3 separate regions of the Homo sapiens genome follow, and all the other regions are linked to region 3. Evidence: fine-mapped expression QTL. A gene starts in region 3. Each other region holds a variant in brackets. All regions are shown on one strand. Distances are between the middles of the regions.

Region 1 (4,239 bases), 130 kb before region 3:
GGTCTCAAACTCCTGACTTCAGGTGATTCGCCCCCCTCAGCCTACCAAGGTGCTGGGAATACAGATTATAGGCATGAGCCACTGCGCCCGGCCGCCACATTTCCTTTATTCTTTTTTCCATTGATGGAAAGAAACATAGGTTGATTCCATCTCTTCACTGTTAAGAATAGTTGTCTACAAATTTTTTTTTTTTTTTTTTTTTTTTTTTTTTGAGACGGAGTCTCGCTCTGTCGCCCAGGCTGGAGTGCAGTGGCGGGATCTCGGCTCACTGCAAGCTCCGCCTCCCGGGTTCACGCCATTCTCCTGCCTCAGCCTCCCAAGTAGCTAGGACTACAGGCGCCCGCCACTACGCCCGGCTATTTTTTGTAGTTTTAGTAGAGACGGGGTTTCACCGTTTTAGCCGGGATGGTCTCGATCTCCTGACCTTGTGATCCGCCCGCCTCGGCCTCCCAAAGTGCTGGGATTACAGGCGTGAGCCACCGCGCCCGGCCGTCTACAAATTTTTTTACACTTGTCATCAAGAGATAGAATCTGGTTTCAGGCTGGGTGTGGCGGCTTACGCCTGTAATCCCAGCACTTTGGGAGGCCGAGGTGGGTGGATCACGAAGTCAGGAGATTGAGACCATCCTCGCCAACATGGTGAAACCCCATCTCTACTAAACATACAAAAATTAGCTGGCCGTGGTGGCTTGTGCCTGTAGTCCCAGCTACTCAGGAGGCTGAGGCAGCAGAATCACTTGAACCTGAGTGGTGGAGGTTGCAGTGAGCTGAGATCGGGCCACTGCACTCCAGCCTGGGTGACAGAGCAAGACTCTGTCTCAAAAAAAATAAAAAATCTAGTTAATCTTCCCTTGAATATGAACTTAGTCCCCTGCTTCTATAAGTAGAATACAATGGAAGTGTTGCTCGTGATCTGCCAAAGTTAGGTCATAAAAGATGTTTCCACTTGGCTGTCCTTCCTGGGATGGGTGCACTTAGAACCCATTCACCATTTTGTGAGAAAGCCCAGGCCACATATGGAGGTGATGTGTGGGTGTTCCACCAGATAGCCCCAGCTGAGGCCCTAGCTAACAGCCCACATTAACCAGGAGATATTTGAGCAAGGAAACCATTGAGACTATTCTAACTGCATACTGTTTGAAGGCAACCACATAAGACATCCTAAGCCAGAACTGCCTAGGTGAGTCTAGTCAGCCTTCAGTATTGTGAGAAGACTAATAAGCATCATTGTAACTTTATACCATTACGCTTGGAGTGGTTTGTTACACAGCAATAGATAGCTGATACACAAAGTGGTCTTCCAATACGAATATTATGTCAGTTCTCCACTTGACAGCATTTAATGATTTAGAATTGAGTGTAAAAGTCAAAACCCAATTCTGAATCCATCTGACAAGGGATTAATAACTAGAGTACATAAAGAGCTCAGGTGGAAAAAAAATAAATGGGAAAAAATATAATAATCTGATTTTAAAATGGGCAAAAGATCAGAATAAATATTTCTCAAAAGAAGACATACAAATTGCAAACAGGTATATAAAAAGGTGCTCAACATCATCGATCATCAGAGAAATGCAAATCAAAACTATAATGAGCTATCATCCTACCCCAGTTAAAATGGCTTATATCCAAAAGACAGGCGATACCAAATGCTATTGAGGATGTGGAGAAAAGGGAACCCTGATACACTGTTGATGGGAACGTAAATTAGTACAACCACTATGGAGAACGGTTTGGAGGGTCCTCAAAAAATGAAAAATAGAGTTACTTTATGATGCAATAATCTTACTGCTGGATATATACCCAAAAGGAAGAAAATCAGTATATTGAAGAAATATCTGCATTTCTATATTTATTACAACACTATTCACAATAGCCAAGATTTGGAAGCAATTTAAGTGTCCATCAACAGGTGAATGGATAGAAAAAATGTGGTATATATACACAATGGAATATTATTCAGCCATGAGAAAGAATATAATCCTGTTATTTGCAACAACATGAGTAGAACTGGAGATCATTATGTTAACTAAAATAAGCCAGACACAGAAAGACAAATTTTGCATGTTCTCAGTCATTTGTGGGTGCTAAGAATTAAAATAATTGAACTTATGAAGATAGAGAACAGAATGATGGTTACCAGAGGCTGGGAAGGGTAGTGGGCTGGAGGGGGTGCACAGGAATGATTAATGGGTACAAAAATACAGTTAGAATGAATAAGATGTAGTATTTGGCAGTACAACAGCATGACTATAGTAAACAATAATTTATTGTATATTTAAAAATAGCTTAAATAGGCCAGGTGTGGTGGCTTATGCCTGTAATCCCAGCACTTTGGGAGGCCAAGGGGGGCTGATCACCTGAGGTCAGAAGTTCAAGACCAGCCTGGCCAACATGGAGAAACCCCACCTCTACTAAAAATACAAAAATTAGCGGGGCGTGGTGGTGCACGCCTGTAGTCCCAGCTACTCAGGAGGCTGAGGCAGGGGAATCACTTGAACTGAGGGGGCAGAGGTTGCAGTTAGCCAAGATTGTGCTACTGCACTCCAGCCCCGATGACAGAGCTGGACTTTGTCT[C/CAA]AAAAAAAAAAAAAAAAAAAGCATAATTGGAGATTGTAAAACAAAGAAAGGACAAATGCTTGAGGTGATGGGCATCCCATTCACCCTGATGTGATTATTACACATTACATGCTGTGTCAAAACGTCTCATGCACCCCATAAATATATACACCTACTGTGTATCCACAAAAATTAAAAGTAAAGCATTTTTTAAACCCCCAATCTTGGCCAGATGTGGTGTCCCACACCTGTAATTCCAGTGCTTTTATAGGCCAGGATGGGAGGATCACTTGAGTCCAGGAGTTTGAGACCCACCTAGGCAACATAGCAAGACTGTCATCTCTAATAACAATAAAAAAACTTAGCCAGGCATGGTGGGGCTCAGGCCTATAGTCCCAGCTACTTGGGAGGCTGAGGTGACAGGATCTCTTGAACCCAGGAGGTTGAGGCTGCAGTGAGCTATGATTGCCCCACTGCACTCCAGCCTGGGTGACAGAGTGAGACCATGTCTCTTAAAAACCAAACCAATCCTAGCATGATCGGACCCTGTCTGCCACCCTCTATTCCTTTCCTCTTGCTCAGTGTGCATCAGGCATCTGGGCTTCTTTTCTGCTCCTGTAAATGAATGCCAAGTGGTTTCCCTCTTCAGGACCTTTGCACATGCTCTCCCCTGCCCGAAATGGACTTCCCATACCTCCTGCCATAGCTGGATTTTTCTCATGTTTCAGACCTCAGCTCGCACATCATCTCTCGAGAAATCCTCCCTCATCCTGTGAAGAGAAAATCATCGTCCTTTTCATTGCCTCGTCCTGCCTGGTTCTCTCAAAGCAGATACCACACTAAAAAATCAGCTTGTTATTTATTGAACTGCTTGTCTGCATATCCTCCTCCCAAACTCACGGCAAATCAGAACAGAGGCTCCTTGTGGCAGGAGTCCCATCTTGTTCATTCTCAGAACCTAATATAGTACTTGGCACATAGTAGGCACACAACAAATGTCATTAGAATGAGTAAGTATCAAGGGGTCAGGCGCGGTGGCTCATGCCTGTAATCCCAGCACTTTGGGAGGCCAAGGCAGGTGAATCACCTCAGGTCAGAAGTTCGAGACCAGCCTGGCCAACATGGTGAAACCTTGTCTCTGCTAAAAATACAAAAGTTAGCTGGGCATGGTGGTGCACACCTGTAATCCCAGCTACTTGGGAGGCTGAGGCAGGAGAACCACTTGAATTTGGGAGGCAGAGGTTGCAGTGGGCCAAGATTGTGCCACTACACCCCAGCCTGGGTGACAGAGTGAGATTCCATCTCAAAAAAAAAAAATGAATGAATAAGTATCAAGGAAGGGAGATTTTGTGATTTGCCACCTTTACATGGAAAGCCTACTTAACATTGACATTTTCTATTTGATGGTATTTTTATAATAGGAAATTGAAACTGAGCTAATTAAAAAAGAATAAGGCTGGGCATGGTGATTTATGCCTGTAATTCCAGCACTTTGGGAGGCTGAAGAGGGAGGATCACTTGAGGGTAGCAGTTTCAGACCAGCGTGGGCAACATACAGAGACCCCTGTCTCTGTAAAAACAACTTTTTTTTTTTGAGACAGAATTTCGCTCTTGTTGCCCAGGCTGGAGTGCAGTGGCACGATCTCGGTTCACCAGCCTCTGCCTCCTGGGTTCAAGCAATTC
Region 2 (4,239 bases), 260 kb before region 3:
GACGTTAAGATTTGGTCTTTTATTACAGAAAACTATAATAAACAAGTTCCTTTCAGGCTGTGAGTCAGTCAGCTGGCAGATAAAATTTATGGATGGGAAAAAGCGATTACTAGGAAATATTCTTTCCCAAGTTACATAGATGTAATAGAGACACATGAGAAATGTAGTAGAGACACTAATCAATTCAGACAGTGCAGTTAAGCCCCACAAAGAGTACTACTCCTTCATTCATCCATCTGTCCACTCATTCATCCTTCCTTCCATCCATTTGTGCAATTGTGTTTACTCTATTGCATGCACTAAGTGCTGTGGTTGCCAAGGTAAATATATCACAGTTCTTCCTCTCGGGGTGTACACAGTTTCATTCAGAGACATACAAATGGGCAGGCAATTATAAAACAGGGTTTGGTGAGTAGACATGCACAGGATGGGTCATCTCCTAGACTGTCTCCTAAAAAACCCTTTCAAAGCACCTCTACCACATGCAGGGCTAAACCTTTTAGAGTATTCAATTTGGAGTGTGGTGGAGGCTCAGGAAAGGAAAGGAGAAGGGCACAAGGGATATGAGAGAAGGGCCAAAGGGATATGAGTCAAAGCAGGGATGCAAGCACTGGCAGGAAGTACAATAAGGGGACAGAAAAATAGGCTGGAACAGGCAGAGAAGGCTTCCTGGAGGAGGTAAGGATGAATCAGGCCTTGAAGATTACGCTTTTCGGCTATGGTGACAATAAAGGAACGGGCCTTCTGGCTTCCAAGCAGAAATTATTATAAATTATGAGACCTGCAGAGAACTAGTTCTGAGCTAGCTGTGAAGTTGTATTGCATATTGGAGTGTTTTTGTTTTGTTTTGTTTTTTTCCACATTAGTGGTTGTCCACCTTCACTGCACTTTAGGATTACTCAGAAAGCATTAAGAACAGATGAATAGGTGTCAGCCTACATTAATTAAATCAAAATCCTGAGAATAGGGCCTATGGGCACTAGTGTTTAAGAGTTCATAGGTGATTCTAATACGTAGTCAGTGATACCAGCAGAACTACTGTTTTACATTGTCCCTGAAAAAAAACTTCACTGATCACCTGAGTGTAAAGGAGATTGTAGGCAGGTTACTTAAGGGTCATCTCCTAGACTGTCTCCTAAACCCCCTTCAAAGCACATCTACCACACGCAAGGCTAAACCTTTTAGGTACCTTATAGGTAGAGGGACGGGAAACTCACTGCCCCATCGTGGGACAGGTCCAGTGCTTTGAAAGTGCCATCCAGTCCAGTCACCACACCCTGAGTCATTCCTCTGTTCCAGGCACTACTTACTTCAGGTGCTCGATAGAGATATAGCAGTAAACATGCCTCAGAGATGACACTGAGATTACATTCCCCAATAAAATACTGTAGATCTGTTCTTTAAAGCAAAGCCTGCAGAACTCCATTCATTAACTATTTATTTTATTTTATTTTATTATTATTATACTTTAAGTTTTAGGGTACATGTGTACAATGTGCAGGTTTGTTACATATGTATACATGTGCCATGTTGGTGTGCTGCACCCATTAACTTGTCACTTAGCATTGGGTATATCTCCAAATGCTATCCCTCCCCCCTCCCCCCACCCCACAACAGTCCCCGGGGTGTGATGTTCCCCTTCCTGTGTCCATGTGTTCTCATTGTTCAATTCCCACCTATGAGTGAGAACATGCGGTGTTTGGTTTTTTGTCCTTGTGATAGTTTGCTGAGAATGATGGTTTCCAGTTTCATCATGTTTTATGGCTGCATAGTATTCCATGGTGTATAAGTGCCACATTTTCTTAATCCAGTCTATCGTTGTTGGGCATTTGGGTTGGTTCCAAGTCTTTGCTATTGTGAATGGTGCCGCAATAAACATACGTGTGCATGTGTCTTTATAGCAGCATGATTTATAGTCCTTTGGGTATATACCCAGTAATGGGATGGCTGGGTCAAATGGTATTTCTAGTTCTAGATCCCTGAGGAATCGCCACACTGACTTCCACAATGGTTGAACTAGTTTA[G/C]AGTCCCAACAACAGTGTAAAAGTGTTCCTATTTCTCCACATCCTCTCTAGCACCTGTTGTTTCCTGACTTTTTAATGATCGCCATTCTAACTGGTGTGAGATGGTATCTCATTGTGGTTTTGATTTGCATTTCTCTGATGGCCAGTGATGATGAGCATTTTTTCATGTGTTTTTTGGCTGCATAAATGTCTTCTTTTGAGAAGTGTCTGTTCATATCCTCCGCCCACTTTTTGATGGGGTTGTTTGTTTTTTTCTTGTAAATTTATTTGAGTTCATTGTAGATTCTGGATATTTGCCCTTTGTTGGATGAGTAGGTTGCGAAAATTTTCTCCCATTTTGTAGGTTGCCTGTTCAGTCTGATGGTAGTTTCTTTTGCTGTGCAGAAGCTCTTTAGTTTAGTTAGATCCCGTTTGTCAATTTTGGCTTTTGTTGCCATTGCTTTTGGTGTTTTAGACATGAAGTCCTTGCCCATGCCTATGTCCTGAATGGTATTGCCTAGGTTTTCTTCTAGGGTTTTTATGGTTTTAGTTCTAACATGTAAGTCTTTAATCCATCTTGAATTAATTTTTGTCTAAGGTGTAAGGAAGGGATCCAGTTTCAGCTTTCTACATATGACTAGCCAGTTTTCCCAGCACCATTTATTAAATAGGGAATCCTTTCCCCACTGCTTGTTTTTGTCAGGTTTGTCAAAGATCAGATGGTTGTAGATATGTGGTGTTATTTCTGAGGACTCTGTTCTGTTCCATTGATCTATATCTCTGTTTTGGTACCAGTACCATGCTGTTTTGGTTATTGTAGCCTTGTAGTATAGTTTGAAGTCAGGTAGCATGATGCCTCTGGCTTTGTTCTTTTGGCTTAGGATTGACTTGGCGATGCGGGCTCTTTTTTGTTCCATATGAACTTTAAAGTAGTTTTTTCCAATTCTGTGAAGAAAGTCATTGGTAGCTTGATGGGGATGGCATTGAATCTATAAATTACCTTGGGCAGTATGGCCATTTTCACGATATTGATTCTTCCAACCCATGAGCGTGGAATGTTGTTCCATTTGTTTGTATTCTCTTTTATTTCATTGAACAGTGGTTTGCAGTTCTCCTTAACATCTGTTAAGGAGATTAATTAACATCTGTTAATGAGACCTTTCCTCGATTAAATATTCTGTCATTGGAGATTGGTACATTTCTTTGTCAAGGGCAACAGTTTTTAAGCCATTCACATACACACGTTCCTGGGAGAAGTGACACTGGGGAGATTTTTTTTTTAACCCCTGAAAATAAACATATCGGAGAATACATTCATGATCTCTCCACAGGTTCTAATAAAGGGGGGAGACCTGGGTTCTGCACCTGGCCTTGTTGTCGTGGTTACGGTTGCTTTCAGGCGATGGCACCTGTTCTCCAGGTGTGTCTGGACTTCTACTTGCTTTAGCCATATATGGCCACCAGGGGGAGCAGTCACCCCACAGTTGCCTGGAGCGCCCTCTCTCTCCAAATTCACAGCTTGAAATGTCACCTGTGGCCGTCTGCGGTCATCCACGGTTTTCTTTCTTACCTTTTCTTTCTTTCTTTCCTTCCTTCCTTCCTCCTTCCCTTTTTCCTTCGTTCCTTCCTTCCTTTTTTTTTCTTTCTTTCTCTTTTCTTTCTTTCTTTCCCCCTCTCTCTCTCCCTTCCTTCTTTGTCTTTCTTTCGATCCTTCCTTCCTTCTCCCCTCCCCTCCCCTCCTCTCCCCTTCCCGACAGAGTTTCGCTCTTGTTGCCCAGGCTGGAGTGCAGTGATGTGATCTCAGCTCGCTGCAACCTCTGCCTCCTGGGTTCAAGCAATTCTCCTGCCTCAGCCTCCCAAGCAGCTGGGATTACAGGTGCCCACCATCAAGCCTGGCTAATTTTGTATTTTTAGTAGAGACGGGGCTTCCCCATGTTGGCCAGGCTGGTCTTGAACCCCTGACCTCCGGTGATCCATCCTCCTCAGCCTTTCAAAGTGCTGGGATTACAGGTGTGAGCCACCACAGCTGGCCATCCATGGCTATTTTCACCATGCCTCGCTTTCCCCTGTTGGTTCAGTCACCCTCAAAGGACAGAGCCTCTGTGCTATAGGCCTCCCCCCAGATCTGTGCATTGCCTAATATGACTGGACCCTCCTCCCCACTCCCCATCCTGCCCCAGCTCCTCTGATGACATCATCGGCTCTGGAGCCACCACTCAGCCTCTTGCAGGAGGGT
Region 3 (4,198 bases):
CCAGGCCTAGCACAAGCCCTGACACATAGCGGGGATTCTTGGCAGAAAGGACAGATAACTTGCTGATGACAGGTCAACTGCCAGGGCGATCTGTGCACCTGGGCCAGTGGGGCCAGGAGTTCCTCCTCAGAGTGGATGGGGCACAATATCTCCTGAGACAGGAGCAAGCCCAGGGCCACATCCCAGCCAGAGGCAAGAAGGTTCAGACCTGTGACTAAGAGGCAGATGGCCACTGCCTGTCACAGGGAGGAAGGCTGGTTGGAGGAATGGGGGGAGCTTTGCTTAGGACACTGTGAGTGGGGTGCACACTGGCACCCAGCCCCCTCCTCTTTCCCTCCTGTACTGAATGCTGCAAAGTCAGAATAAGAGGATGTAGACCAGGCAAAAGCCGCCCAGACCTCACCCAGTTCCACTTCTCTGCAGATCACATCCAAGTCAGGAGGGGAACAGGGGTGGCGTCCTGGGCCTGATGTCATGTCCTGTCCTCTATGTGAACCTTGAAAACCAAGGGACTTCCTGCCTCGGCAGAGCTGACCTCAGGACATCTAAACTGTCACCTTCTCCCGATCCCCGGGCCCAGCTCTGTGCAGTGCATGCCGCTGTGGCCAGAGTGTGTGGGTGGCTCATGCCAGTAATCAGCGCTTTGGGAGGTCAACGTGGGAGGATGGCTTGAGGCCAGGAGTTCGAGACCACCCTGGGTAAATAGTGACACCCTGTATCTTTTTTTTTTTTTTAAGTTTTTTTGCCTTTTTTTTTTTTTTGGAGACGTAGTCTCACTATGTCGCCCAAGTTGGAGTGCAGTGGCATCCTGATCTCAGCTCACTGCAACCTCTACTCCCGGGTTCAAGCAATTCTCCTGACTCAGCCTCCCAAGTAGCTGGGATTACAGGCATGAACCACCACACTTGGCTAATTTTTATATTTTTAGTAGAGATGAGGTTTCACCCTGTTATGTTGGCCAGCCTGGTCTCAAACTCCTGGCCTCAGGCGATTCGCCCGCCTCCACCTCCCAAAGTGCTGGGATTACAGGTGTGAGCCACCGAGCCCAGATAATTTTTTTTTTTTCAATTAGCCAGGCGTGTTGGCACCCCCTAAATTGCAAGGCTGGGGCGGGAGAATCGCTTGAGCTCAGAAGTTAGGCTGGCGCCACTCCGCCCCAGCCTGGGAAACAGGTGCAAACCCAGTCTCAAAAAAATTTTTAAAAATTAAAAATAAATATTGAAAGGAAGGATACTGCACAGACTCAGCCTTTACCTCGGGAAAGGGCTCGGCAAGAGCCTTTTCTCCTCCTGCCTAATCCGCCCCGGCCCTCCAGGGTGCTCCTGTTCCCCCGTCCCCCAAGCCGGCGCCCCCAAGCCCGTTGACCTTTAACCTCCTGCGGGCCCCAGCTCGGAGACGCCCAGGGGAAGAAGTCTGCGGGGGGCCCGGGCTCCCCTACTCCCACCGCCGGGCTTTCGGGCGCCTCCCGGCCCTGCCCCGAGATCGCACCTCCCACAGCGGCCGCCGGTACCACTGCTCCTCGAAGCCCCGGCGTCGGTTGTCAGAGAAGTCGGCGCGGAAGCTCCAGAGGCCGTCCAGCTCCTTGCACTCCCGCGACGGGCTCTCCTGGGGGTACAGCATCCCGCCCTGCAGCCCCAGCGCGCAGCCCCACAACAACGGCCCGAGCGCCGCCCAGGCAACCGCCGACCCCCGGGCCATGCTTCCCGGTCCCCCGCTCGGCCACCGTCTGCGGCGCTAAGAAAAGCGCGGGAGGTGCCCGTAGGGCGGGTCGCGTGACGCGCCGGTGTCGTGATGCGCCTGAAGCCATCCGCGCCATCTTGGTTGAGGACGAGTGCCAGGCCTGGAGGGGCGGGGCCGGGCGCTGCCCGGTAGGGCTTGTGGCTGGAACCCCAGGCTAGGCCTTTGGGGAAACGGGACCCTCACCCTCAGCCCCAGCCGATAAGGGCGAGGTCTGCTCCCCACCCCGACCCAGGCTGGACGATCCAGGGCCGCAGGCCAGAACAGAACCCCTGAGATCGGTGGGATCCCCCTGTTTCTTCAAGGAGCACCTCCACTTGCTTTTCCCAGCAGGAATTCAAGGAGGCCCCAGCGGCGCCTCTTCCATGCCTGTCTGATGCAGCCTCTTGCAGGGATGCACGTCCTTGGGATGCGGCCATAGCCTTGACCCTGGGCTTCTGGAGCCCTGACCTTAACCCAGGGGCCAAGAGCTCCCTCTTGGTGTTGCAGGCACATAAAGATGCAGGGAGAGAGGCCAGGTGCACTTTGGGAACCCGAGGGGGGCAGATCACTTGAGGCCAGGAGTTCGAGACCAGCCTGGCCAACGATAGTGAAACCCCGTCCCTATTTTGTAAACATACAAAAAAAAAAAAAAGAATTAGCGGGGCGTGATGGTGCGTGCCTGTAATCCCAGCTACTCAGGAAGCTGAGGTAGGAGAATCGCTTGAACCCGGGAGGCAAAGGCTGCAGTAAGCCGAGATCGCACCACTGCACTCCAGCCTGGGCAACAGAGCGAGACTCTGTCTCAAAAAAAAAAAAAAAATTGCAGGGAAAGGGTGCCCTGCGGGACCCCAGTTTACTCCAGTAGGGAAGGCACCGTGTGGGAGAGGTAGAGGAGGAGATCTGGAGACAGCAAAGGAGACATAGATTTATGGAGGGGACTTTCATACAGGGACGGTGCAGTGGCCATTGCTGGACATGAGAACCACTACCATTTGTAAAAAGCATGCAGCTTACATAACATTTTCAACTAGCATCCTCGACCTGTTACTGGTGGAGTTCCGGGTGGTGAATCCCTACACATCAGCAACAACCTCAATTCTTGCCTCCTCAGAAGAAAGAATTGCACTGAGGGGCATAAGGCAGAAAGCCAGAGGGAGGTAAGCTGCAGAGCAGTAGTAAAAGCTTGTTAAAAAGCAGGCCAGTGCTGAGCGTAGTGGCTCACACCTGTAATCCCAGCACTTTGGGAGGCGGAGGTGGGGGGATCACGAGGTCAGGGGTTTGAGACCAGCCTGGCCAATATGATGAAACCCCATCTCTACTAAAAAATTAGCTGGGCATGGTGGCATGCGCCCGTAGTCCCAGCTACTCGGGAGGCTGAGGCAGGAGAATCGATTGAACGCGGGAGGCAGAGGTTGCAGTCAGCCGAGATCGCACCACAGCACTACAGCCTGGCGAGAGAGCAAGACTCAGTCTAAAAAAAAAAGCAGGCCAGGCACAGAGGTTCAGGCCTGTAACTCCAAACTCCAGCACTTTGGGAGGCCAAGGCGGGAGGATCACTTGATATCAGGAGTTTGAGACCAACCTGGCCAACGTGGAGAAACCCCATCTCTACTAAAAATACAAAAATTAGCCAGGCGTGGTGGCAGGCACCTGTAATCCCTACTATTTGGGAGGCTGAGGCAGGAGAAATGCTTTAACCCAGGAGGCAGAGGTTGCAGTGAGCTGAGATCACGCCACCGCACTCCAGCCTGGGCTACAGAGTGAGATGCCATTTCAGGAAAAAAAAAAATATTAAAAAACTTTAGAACAGGAAGGAAAGAAGGAAAGTACAACTTGGAAGAGGGCCAAGTGGGTGATCTAAGAAACCAAGTGCCTTGGCCAGGTGCGGTGGCTCACGCCTGTCATCCCAGCACTTTGGGAGGCTGAAGCAGGCAGATCACCTGAGGTTGGGAGTTCGAGACCAGCCTGACCAATATGGAGAAACCGCATCTCCATATTTAGCTGGGCATGGTGGCACATGTCTGTAATCCCAGCTACTCGGGAAGGCTGAGGTGAGAGAATCGCCTGAACCAGAGATTGCAGTGAGCCGAGATCACGCCATTGTACTCCAGCCTGGGCAACAAGAGTGAAACTCCTACAAAAAAAAAGAAAAAGGAAAACAAGTGCCCAGCTTGACCTCTTGACTCAGGGTTTCATAGATTGGCATCCTTCCAGGATCTTGCCACTCCTGATTCCTTAGCTGGGGCTCTGAACATACATTCTTAGACCATAAAGTCATTCGCAGGGTGCACAACAGTTACGGATGTCAGGTGCCTCTGCCATACAGAGGGAGCCCTCATGTCCTAGGAAGCTGGCCTGGACACAATTGTTTGTATGATTACTCCCCCACCCCCTTTTTTCATGCTCACCAAATCCACCTTCTGAAAATGGACCTCAATACTGGAAATGGAGTCCCCAGCATAGTGAAAATAAGTACATT

Direction of the effects. Positions count from the first base shown, and alleles are read on the strand shown. Sizes are in standard deviations (SD) of each study's normalised expression.
In carriers of allele CAA in region 1, the expression in monocytes after LPS of the gene that starts at base 1,728 in region 3 tends to be lower than with C alone (small effect, 0.33 SD a copy in Fairfax 2014).
For the expression in thyroid of the gene that starts at base 1,728 in region 3, allele G in region 2 goes with a higher level than allele C (small effect, 0.29 SD a copy in GTEx).

The links. PIP is the estimated chance that this variant, and not a neighbour inherited with it, causes the effect.
Region 1: its variant is the best candidate, but not a certain one, in a credible set for the expression of GUSB in monocytes after LPS (Fairfax 2014, PIP 0.59).
Region 2: its variant is the best candidate, but not a certain one, in a credible set for the expression of GUSB in thyroid (GTEx, PIP 0.53).

The regions. Positions count from the first base shown.
Region 1 is chr7:65,847,133-65,851,371 of GRCh38, forward strand. No RefSeq gene overlaps it. Among named protein-coding and RNA genes, the nearest start is that of LINC03129, 9.5 kb to the left of the region's middle. The variant C/CAA (reference allele first, on the strand shown) is at 2,578.
Region 2 is chr7:65,719,000-65,723,238 of GRCh38, forward strand. The region is part of intron 3 of LINC03006 (long intergenic non-protein coding RNA 3006); the gene reads right to left. Among named protein-coding and RNA genes, the nearest start is that of SNORA22, 34 kb to the right of the region's middle. The variant G/C (reference allele first, on the strand shown) is at 2,025.
Region 3 is chr7:65,980,486-65,984,683 of GRCh38, forward strand. It overlaps GUSB (glucuronidase beta), which reads right to left and starts at 1,728. Exons shown (of 12, transcript NM_000181.4): 1 at 1,489-1,728. The coding sequence starts at 1,698. RefSeq lists enhancers at 1-317, 1,774-1,903.